Linked DNA regions of Homo sapiens: region 2 is linked to region 1. Evidence: fine-mapped expression QTL. A gene starts in region 1. The other region holds a variant in brackets. All regions are shown on one strand. Distances are between the middles of the regions.

Region 1 (4,348 bases):
AAGAGTTTTACTAAGCCCCAAACTCCCCTTGCCTAAGGAGTTACTTTCTTCCCCAGTGAGCTGGGTGAACTGTTCAAGCACCTTTGTCGGGCTCCCTTTCCTCTAAGTTCCCTGCCTCTCTCTACCTTCTGGCTTCTGGGCACTATCTAGTTTCTCCATCTTGTCCCTCAAGGACAAATGCCAGCAATGCCTAATTCCGTACTGGTCCAGACATCCCAAATCTTCCCAAAGCCATTCTGATGTCAGGCATGAGCTACAGGCCTAGTTCATAACTCATTAATAAGTCAGGGGATTGTCAACCTAGAGCTCCAGTGAATGATCTAGCCCATGTAGCTCAATACTGGATGCACATTAGAATCACCTGGGGAGCTTTTTAAACTGCAGGTGCTCAGGCCCCACCCACTCCCAAAGATTCTTTTTTAATTGGTCCAAGGTAGGACTTGACCATCTAGGGTTTTGTTTTTCTTTGTCTTTTCTTTTCTTTTTTTGTTTAAGCCTCTCAAATGATTGCAAGGTACAGCTAGAATGGAGAAGCATTAATTCAGCCCTTCTAGGTTTGAGTTACTCTGCCCACCTCTAGAGCATTCTATGGCAGGCAGATTAAAGTGTCTCCTAACTATGCAGTCACTGATAAAATAAGAATTAGCACATTCTCACCAAATGATCCTGACTTTAAGGGACAAGTATAGATTCCTGAAAAAATTGTCTCTAAGTTGAACCTGTACAAATGGAATCATTTTAAACACACCATTTACTGTCACACAGACTCCCTGATACTTTAGTGTGTGCACATGTGAAACCATTTTTTTGAAGTATGAAATAATTACTATTTTACCTGTATAACTTTGGATTTTGGTGTCCTGAGCTCTCTAAAAAACAGTGTCTCTATAGTATTTGAATATTATGGGTAATGGTTTTTGCAGAGTACAGTATGCTTATACTAAATTATAACAGCATATCCTCATGGTAACCCTATTTGATAGGCGGAAAGTTTGTACACTGATCCTGAAAAGTTATCTGATAATTCTTGATTAAGCAAATTTCATTCCCCGTGTCCCAGGTGAGGGAGGCAGACCTGTTTGATTTTTACTCCCTTCCTTGCTTCCCCTATTCCCCAGGTTAGGCGAGCCAGAGGATTCTCTTGGCATCGTGTCTTTCCTGTGCTCTGAAGATGCCAGCTACCTCACTGGGGAAACAGTGATGGTGGGTGGAGGAACCCCGTCCCGCCTCTGAGGACCCGGAGACAGCCCACAGGCCAGAGTTGGGCTCTAGCTCCTGGTGCTGTTCCTGCATTCACCCACTGGCCTTTCCCACCTCTGCTCACCTTACTGTTCACCTCATCAAATCAGTTCTGCCCTGTGAAAAGATCCAGCCTTCCCTGCCGTCAAGGTGGTGTCTTACTCGGGATTCCTGCTGTTGTTGTGGCCTTGGGTAAAGGCCTCCCCTGAGAACACAGGACAGGCCTGCTGACAAGGCTGAGTCTACCTTGGCAAAGACCAAGATATTTTTTGCCCAGGCCACTGGGGAATTTGAGGGGAGATGAGAGAGAAGGAAGCTGGAGTGGAAGGAGCAGAGTTGCAAATTAACAACTTGCAAATGAGGTGCAAATAAAATGCAGATGATTGCGCGGCTTTGAATCGAATCGACGTTTTCTCAGTGCGGGGTGCTTAGCTGAGCAGAGAGCAGAAGTCTGGCCAGGCTGGATCTCTGGATCCCCCAGCCCTCCTCCCTGTCTCCAGGACCTGAGCGTGATGTTCAGGGGTGGAGGTGTCTGCAGAGCTGCCAACTGGAAGGAAGGTGGGACAGGAACTCCCAGGACGCCACGGGGATCCCCGAGGCAGGGCGAGTCGGGCGAGGGTGGGGAAGGAGGAACTCTCTAACACCTCCCCGCCCCTCGCCTCCCAGATCCAGCCATGCCCTCTCCCAGCATGGCCCTAGGTCCCGAGTCAGCAAGGACAAGCTGGAGGGGTCCTGAGCCGGTGGGGAATAGAGAAAGGCCCTGCAAGGTGCCCGGGCCCACAAACAAAAGAAATGGCTTCTGCCCACGGGCCCGAGGATTGAGTAGATGGAAAGCGGGGACGCTGCCCCCCGCCCCGAAGGCCCGGACACCGGGCGACGCACACCGGCCAGCTCACGCGGGAGCCAGCGAGAAGGGTCGGCGCGAGCGCGCGCGGGGTCTCACGCGGCTCGGCAGCGCGGAGCGCATGCTCAGTCCGGCAGCTCTCCCTGCTGGGCGGGGGAGCCGGCGCTCCGAGGCGGGGGGAGGAGCGCTCAAGCAGCCGCCCCTGACCGGAGCGGGCTCGGCCGCTGCTGCAGCGCTCAGCGCCCGGGCCCTGCTGAAGCCGGGTCTAGCATGTGCCGCGGCTCCCCGGCGGCGGCGGCGGCTCCTCTGCAGCAGCCTCAGCAGCAGCGGCCGCCATGGCCAAGCCCAGCGTGGAGCTCACCCGCGAGTTGCAAGGTACGAGGCTGCCTCGGTCTCTGGGACGCCCCGTCCGGGAGCATCCCAGACCCAGCGCGTTCCTCCCCGTGGTGCATCCCAGCCCGGTGTCTCACACCCCTCACCCCATGCATCCTGGCTCCAAGGCAGCCCCTGCATTCCAGTCCGGGCATCGCTGTCCCCGGAGCATCCTCCGCTGCCTGCCTCGCCTCACCCGGTCGGGACCTTCCTGTCCCGGAGCCGCCCGTCCCGCCCTTCGGTGACAGGTGCAGTTCCCTGGCGCTCCCTGGGGCTGACTCTCGGCGTTCCTAGCCCACCCTCGGCGAAGCGTCCAGTCTCCCATCCGGAGAGTCCCCGCTTCCCCGCCGGGCGGGGCCAAGCCCGCCCCTCCCTGCGATGGGAGCTGCCCCTGGTCCTGACCGCTGCGTGGCTTAACACCCTCCCTCCTCCCGGCCCCGCCCCGGAACTGGCCCTGAAGAGCCCCTTAGGAGCTGGGCAGCGCCCAGGCCAGTGGGGCAAAGAAAGGAGTCAGGGAAGAGGCCCTGGATTGGAGCTAAAACCAAGAGCAGGAGGGTCTCTGAGGCTCGCCTCCCACAGCCCCGTCCCAGCCTGCTTCCTTCTCGCTACCCACCACCCACACATCAAGGCTTCTCCCGTTTGCATGGTTCTCAGACCTAGCCCAAACCCAGGCCCGGCCACCCAGCACTGCCACAACCCTGACCCCCAGAGACGGGAGCACAGGCTAGCCCACGCAAAGCGCAGGATGCTCGTGGATACTCAGAGGCATGCTGCGCCGTGGCAATCTCCCACACCTGCACACACACACAGCACAATCATTAGACGTGTGTAAACACATCTTCACAGAGATGGCACCCCAGCACACGCGCGTGCACACACACACACACACACTATATCTGGGTGGTTCTGCCAGCAGATGGGTATGGGGCTCATTTAAACATTAATTCTTCTCCCCGCCCAACACACACAGAGGAAGTGTCTGGCTCTGTGCCCCTTCCACAGCATACTCATTCACACTTACCTGTCCCCACCAATGCCACACTCAGGCTCCCTGACATCTCCAGGAGGCATGCACACTCTCATAGTAAAGGCAGACACTCACACCCGGACCACCTAGAATATAGTCAAAGGGACACCCCACACCCCCACACAGTGACTCACTTTGTATGTGTCAATGGCTGTTGTAGTGCATGGGTTGGAAAAATTCTTCACACCCTCAGAAGTGTGAGACACACCCTCCCACAGACAGTCAGCAACCGTCCCCTGACTCAGGGACATCAGGAGCCGGAGTTTTCTCCACACCCTACTCCCTCTCTAATAGGAAGAGAAAAGTCAAAAAAGAGACAGTGTGAAAAGTCACCCAAGAAGGAATGCCCTCTGTCCCTGTCCTCCCTTCTTTGTCTCTCTGTTTCTCTCTTATCCCATTTGACCCTGACCCTGCCTCTATCTGGAGAGCTCTGGGAGGTGGGGGTGGCCAGGGTAAGGTGAAGCTCTGAGCAGGCTCCCACCCCCCCTCAGACAGCATCCGGAGGTGCCTGAGCCAAGGGGCCGTGCTCCAACAACATCATGTGAAGTTGGAGACAAAGCCCAAGAAGTTTGAGGACCGAGTGCTGGTGAGGGCACTGGGCATGTGGGGAGGGAGGAGGTGGCTGGCAAGGGCAGCTGGCCAGTAGAGGGCAGGGAGCCGGGAGGACAGAAGAGACAGAAGTGGGTGGACACTGAGGAGACAAAACCTGGGGGGAGGAGGCAGGGCTGGACTGTGTTGATGTCCAGAAGTCTAGGGTAGGGCATCGGGTTGGGGAGACACTCCAAGAGCAGAGCTGAAGGGCTTAAGGAGGGCAGGGCCACCAAGGCCCAGCAGCTGCCATGAGCTGCCGATTTTTTCCTCTCTCT
Region 2 (4,384 bases), 78 kb before region 1:
CCCCAAGACACATAATTGTCAGACTCAGCAAGGTTAAGGGCAGCCAGAGAGAAAGGTTGGGTGACCAACAAAGGGAAGCCCATCAGACTAACAGCAGATCTCTCAGCAGAAACCATACAAACCAGAAAAGAGTTGGGACCAATATTCAACATTCTGAAAGAAAAGATTTTTGAAACTAGAATTTCATATCCAGCCAAACTAAGCTTCGTATGTGAATGAGAAATAAAATCCTTTGCAGACAAGGAGATGCTGAGAGATTTTGTCACCACCAGGCCTGCCTTACAATAAGAGCTCCTGAAGGAAGCACTAAACATGGAAAGGAACAACGGGTACCAGCCACTGCAAAAACATACGAAATTGTAAAGACCATTGATGCTATGAAGAAACTGCATCAATTAATGGGCAAAATAACCAGCTAACGTCATGACAGGATCAAATTCACATATAACAATACTAACCTTCAATGTAAATGGGATAAATGCCCCAATTAAAAGACACAGACTGGCAAATTGGATAAAGAATCAAGACCCATATGGTGTGCTGTATTCAGGAGACCCATCTCACATGCAAAGACACACATAGGCCCAAAATGAAGGTATGTCTGGAATTGGTGGGTTCTTGGTCTCACTGACTTCAAGAATGAAGCTGCGGACCCTCGCGGTGAGTGTTACAGTTCTTAAAGGCAGCGTGTCTGGAGTTTGTTCCTTCTGATGTTCAGACATGTTCAGAGTTTCTTCCTTCTGGTGGGTTCGTGGTCTTGCTGGCTTCAGGAGTGAAGCTGCGGACCTTCGCAGTGAGTGTTACAGCTCTTAAGGCAGCATGTCTGGAGTTGTTCGTTCCTCCTGTCTGGAGTTGTTCATTCCTCCTGGTGGGTTCGTGGCCTCACTGGCCTCAGGAGTGAAGCTGCAGACCTTCACGGTGAGTGTTACAGCTCATAAAGGCAGTGTGGACCCAAAGAGTGAGCAGCAGCAAGATTTATTGCAAAGAGTGAAAGAACAAAGCTTCCACAGTGTGGAAGGGGACCCAAGCGGGTTGCTACTGCTTGAAGGGGTGGCTTGCCCCTCCACACCTGTGGGTATTTCTAGTCAGGTGGGACAAGAGACTGAGAAAGAGAAATAAGACACAGAGACAAAGTATAGAGAAACAACAGTGAGTCCAGGGGACCGGCGCTCAGCATACCAAGGACCTGCACCGGCACCGGTCTCTGAATTCCCTCAGTTTTTATTGATTATTATCGTCATTATTTCAGTAAAAAGGAATGTAGTAGGAGGGCAGGGTGATAATAAGGAGAAGGTCAGCAACAAACGTGAGCAATAGAATCTACATCATAATTCAGTTCAAGGGAAGGTACTATGACTGGACGTGCACGTAAGCCAGATTTATGTTTCTCTCCACCCAAACATGTCGGTGGAGTAAAGAATAACAAGGCAGCATTGCTGCAAACATGTCTCGCCTCCCACCATAGGGCAGTTTTTCTCTCATTTCAGAATTGAACAAATGTACAATCGGGATTTATACCGAGACATTTAGTTCCCATGGGCAGGCAGGAGACAGTGGCCTTCCTCTATCTCGACTGCAAGAGGCTTTCCTCTTTTACTAATCCACCAGAGCACAGACCCTTTATGGGTGTCAGGCTGGGGGACAGTCAGGTCTTTCTCATCCCATGAGGCCATATTTCAGACTATCACATGGGGAGAAACCTTGGACAATACCCTGCTTTCAAGGGCAGAGGTCCCTGTGGCTTTCTGCAGTGCATTGTGCCGCCAAGGCCACACCCACCCAGAACTCGTGCTGGCCTGCAAGTGCTGCGCACAGCCCCAGTTCCCGCCCATGCCTCTCCCTCCACACCTCCCTGCAATCTGAGGAAGCCAGCTCCAGTCTCAGCCAGCCCAGAAAGGGGCTCCCACAGTGCAGCGGCGGGCTGAAGGGCTCCTCAAGCGTGGCCAGAGTGGGTGCTGAGGCTGAGGAGGTGCCAAGAGTGAGCGAGGGCTGCCAGCACACTGCCACCTCTCAAAGGGATGGAGGAAGATCTACAAAACAAATGGAAAGCAAAAAAAAGCAGGGATTGCAATCCTGGTCTCTGATAAAACAGACATTAAACCAACAAAGATGAAAGGAGACAAAGAAGGCCATCACATAATGGTAAGGGGATCAGTTCAACAAGAAGAGCTAACTATCCTAAATATATATGCACCCAATACAGGAGAACCCAGATTCATAAAGCAAGTTCTTAGAGACCTACAAAGAGGCTTAGACTCCCATACAATAGTAATGGGAGACAGTAACACCCCACTGTTAATATTAGACAGAAAACATGACAAAATTAATAAGGATGTCCAGGACTTGAACTCAGCTCTAGACCAAGTAGGCCTAATACACATCTACAGAACTCTCCACCCCAAGTCAACACAATATACATTCTTCTCAGCACCACATCACACTTATTCTAAAATTGACCACATAATTGGAAGTAAAACACTCCTCAGCAAATGCCAAAGAACAGCAATCACAACAAACTGTCTCCCAGACCACAGTGCAATCAAATTAGAACTCAGGACTGAAAAACTCACTCAAAACTGCACAACTACATGGAAACTGAACAACCTGCTCCTGAATGACTACTAGGTAAATAACAAA[C/A]TGAAGGCAGAAATAAACATGGTCTTTGAAACCAATGAGAACAAAGACACAGTGTAGCAGAATCTCTGGGACACATTTAAAACAGTGTGTAGAGGGATATTTACAGCACTGAATACCCACAAGAGAAAGCAGGAAAGATCTAAAATCAACACCCTAACCTCAAAATTAAAAGAACTAGAGAAGCAAGAGCAAACAAATTCAAAAGCTAGCAGAAGACAACAAATAATGATGATCAGAGCAGAACTGAAGGTGATAGAGACATTAAAAAAAAAACCTTCAAAGGATCAATGAATCCAGGAGCTGGATTTTTGAAAAGATCAACAAAATGGACTGCTAGCAAGACTAATAAGGAAGAAAAGAGAGAAGAGTCAAATAGACACAATAAAAAATCATAAAGGGGATATCACCAGTGATCCCACAGAAATACACACTACCATCAGAGAATACTATAAACACCTCTATGCAAATAAACTAGAAAACCTAGAAGAATTGGATAAATTCTTGGACACATACACCTTCTGCAGACTAAATCAGGACGAAGTTGAATTGCTGAATAGACCAATAACAGCTTCTGAAATTGAGGCAATAATTAATAGCCTACCAAACCAAAAAAGTCCAGGACCAGATGGATTCATAGCCGAATTCTACCAGAGGTACAAAGAGGAGCTGGTACTATTCCTTCTGAAACTATACCGATCAATAGAAAAAGAAAGAATCCTCCCTAACTCATTTTATAATGCCAGAATCATCCGGATATCAAAGCTTGGCAGAGACACAACAAAACAAAGAAAATTTTAGGCCAGTATCCCTGATGAACATCAATGCAAAAATCCTCAATAAAATACTGGCAAACCGAATCCAGCATAAGGATGCATTCTCTCACCACTCTTATTCAACATAGTATTGGAAGTTCTGGCCAGGGCAATCAGGCAAGAGGAAGAAATAAAGGGTATTCAATTAGGAAAAGAGGAAGTCAAATTGTCTCTGTTTGCAGATGATTTCACCGTATATTTAGAAACCCCATGATCTCAGCCCAAAATCTCCTTAAGCTGATAAGCAACTTCAGCAAAGTCTCAGGATACAAAATCAATGTGCAAAAATCACAAGCATTCCTATATGCAAATAATAGACAGAGAGCCAAATCATGAGTGAAGTCCCATTCACAATTGCTACAAAGAGAATAAAATACCTAGAAATCCAACTTACAAGGGATGTGAAGGACCTCTTCAAGGAAAACTACAAACCACTGCTCAAGGAAATAAGTGAGGACACAAACAAATGGAAGAATATTGCATGCTCATCGATAGGAAGACTCAATATCATGAAAATGGCCATATTGCCCAAAGTAAATTATAGACTCAATGCTATCCCCATCAAGCTACCACTGACTTTCCTCACAGAATTGGAAAAAACTACTTTAAATTTCATATGGAACCAAAAAAGAGCCAGTATAGCCAAGGAAATCATAAGCAAAAAGAACAAAGCTGGAGGCGTCACACTACCTGACTTCAAACTATACTGCAAGGCTACAGTAACCAAAACAGCATGGTACCGGTACCAAAACATATCTAGACCAATGGAACAGAACAGAGGCCTCAGAAATAATGGAACAGAACAGAAGCCTCAGAAATAACACCACACATCTTCAACCATCTGCTCTTTGACAAACCTGACAGAAACAAGCAATGGGGAAAGGATTCCCTATTTAATAAATGGTGCTGGGAAAACTAGCTAGCCATATGTAGAA

What was found. PIP is the estimated chance that this variant, and not a neighbour inherited with it, causes the effect.
Region 2: its variant is the best candidate, but not a certain one, in a credible set for the expression of CARMIL3 in monocytes (BLUEPRINT, PIP 0.85).

Annotation. Positions count from the first base shown.
Region 1 is chr14:24,049,736-24,054,083 of GRCh38, forward strand. CARMIL3 (capping protein regulator and myosin 1 linker 3) reads left to right here and starts at 2,274. Exons shown (of 40, transcript NM_138360.4): 1 at 2,274-2,458; 2 at 3,974-4,068. The coding sequence starts at 2,419. It also overlaps the pseudogene DHRS4L1. RefSeq lists silencers at 2,067-2,366, 2,637-2,726, 2,747-2,916 and an enhancer at 2,932-3,631.
Region 2 is chr14:23,971,528-23,975,911 of GRCh38, forward strand. It overlaps a transcript of DHRS4L2 not described here. Among named protein-coding and RNA genes, the nearest start is that of DHRS4L2, 15 kb to the right of the region's middle. The variant C/A (reference allele first, on the strand shown) is at 2,638.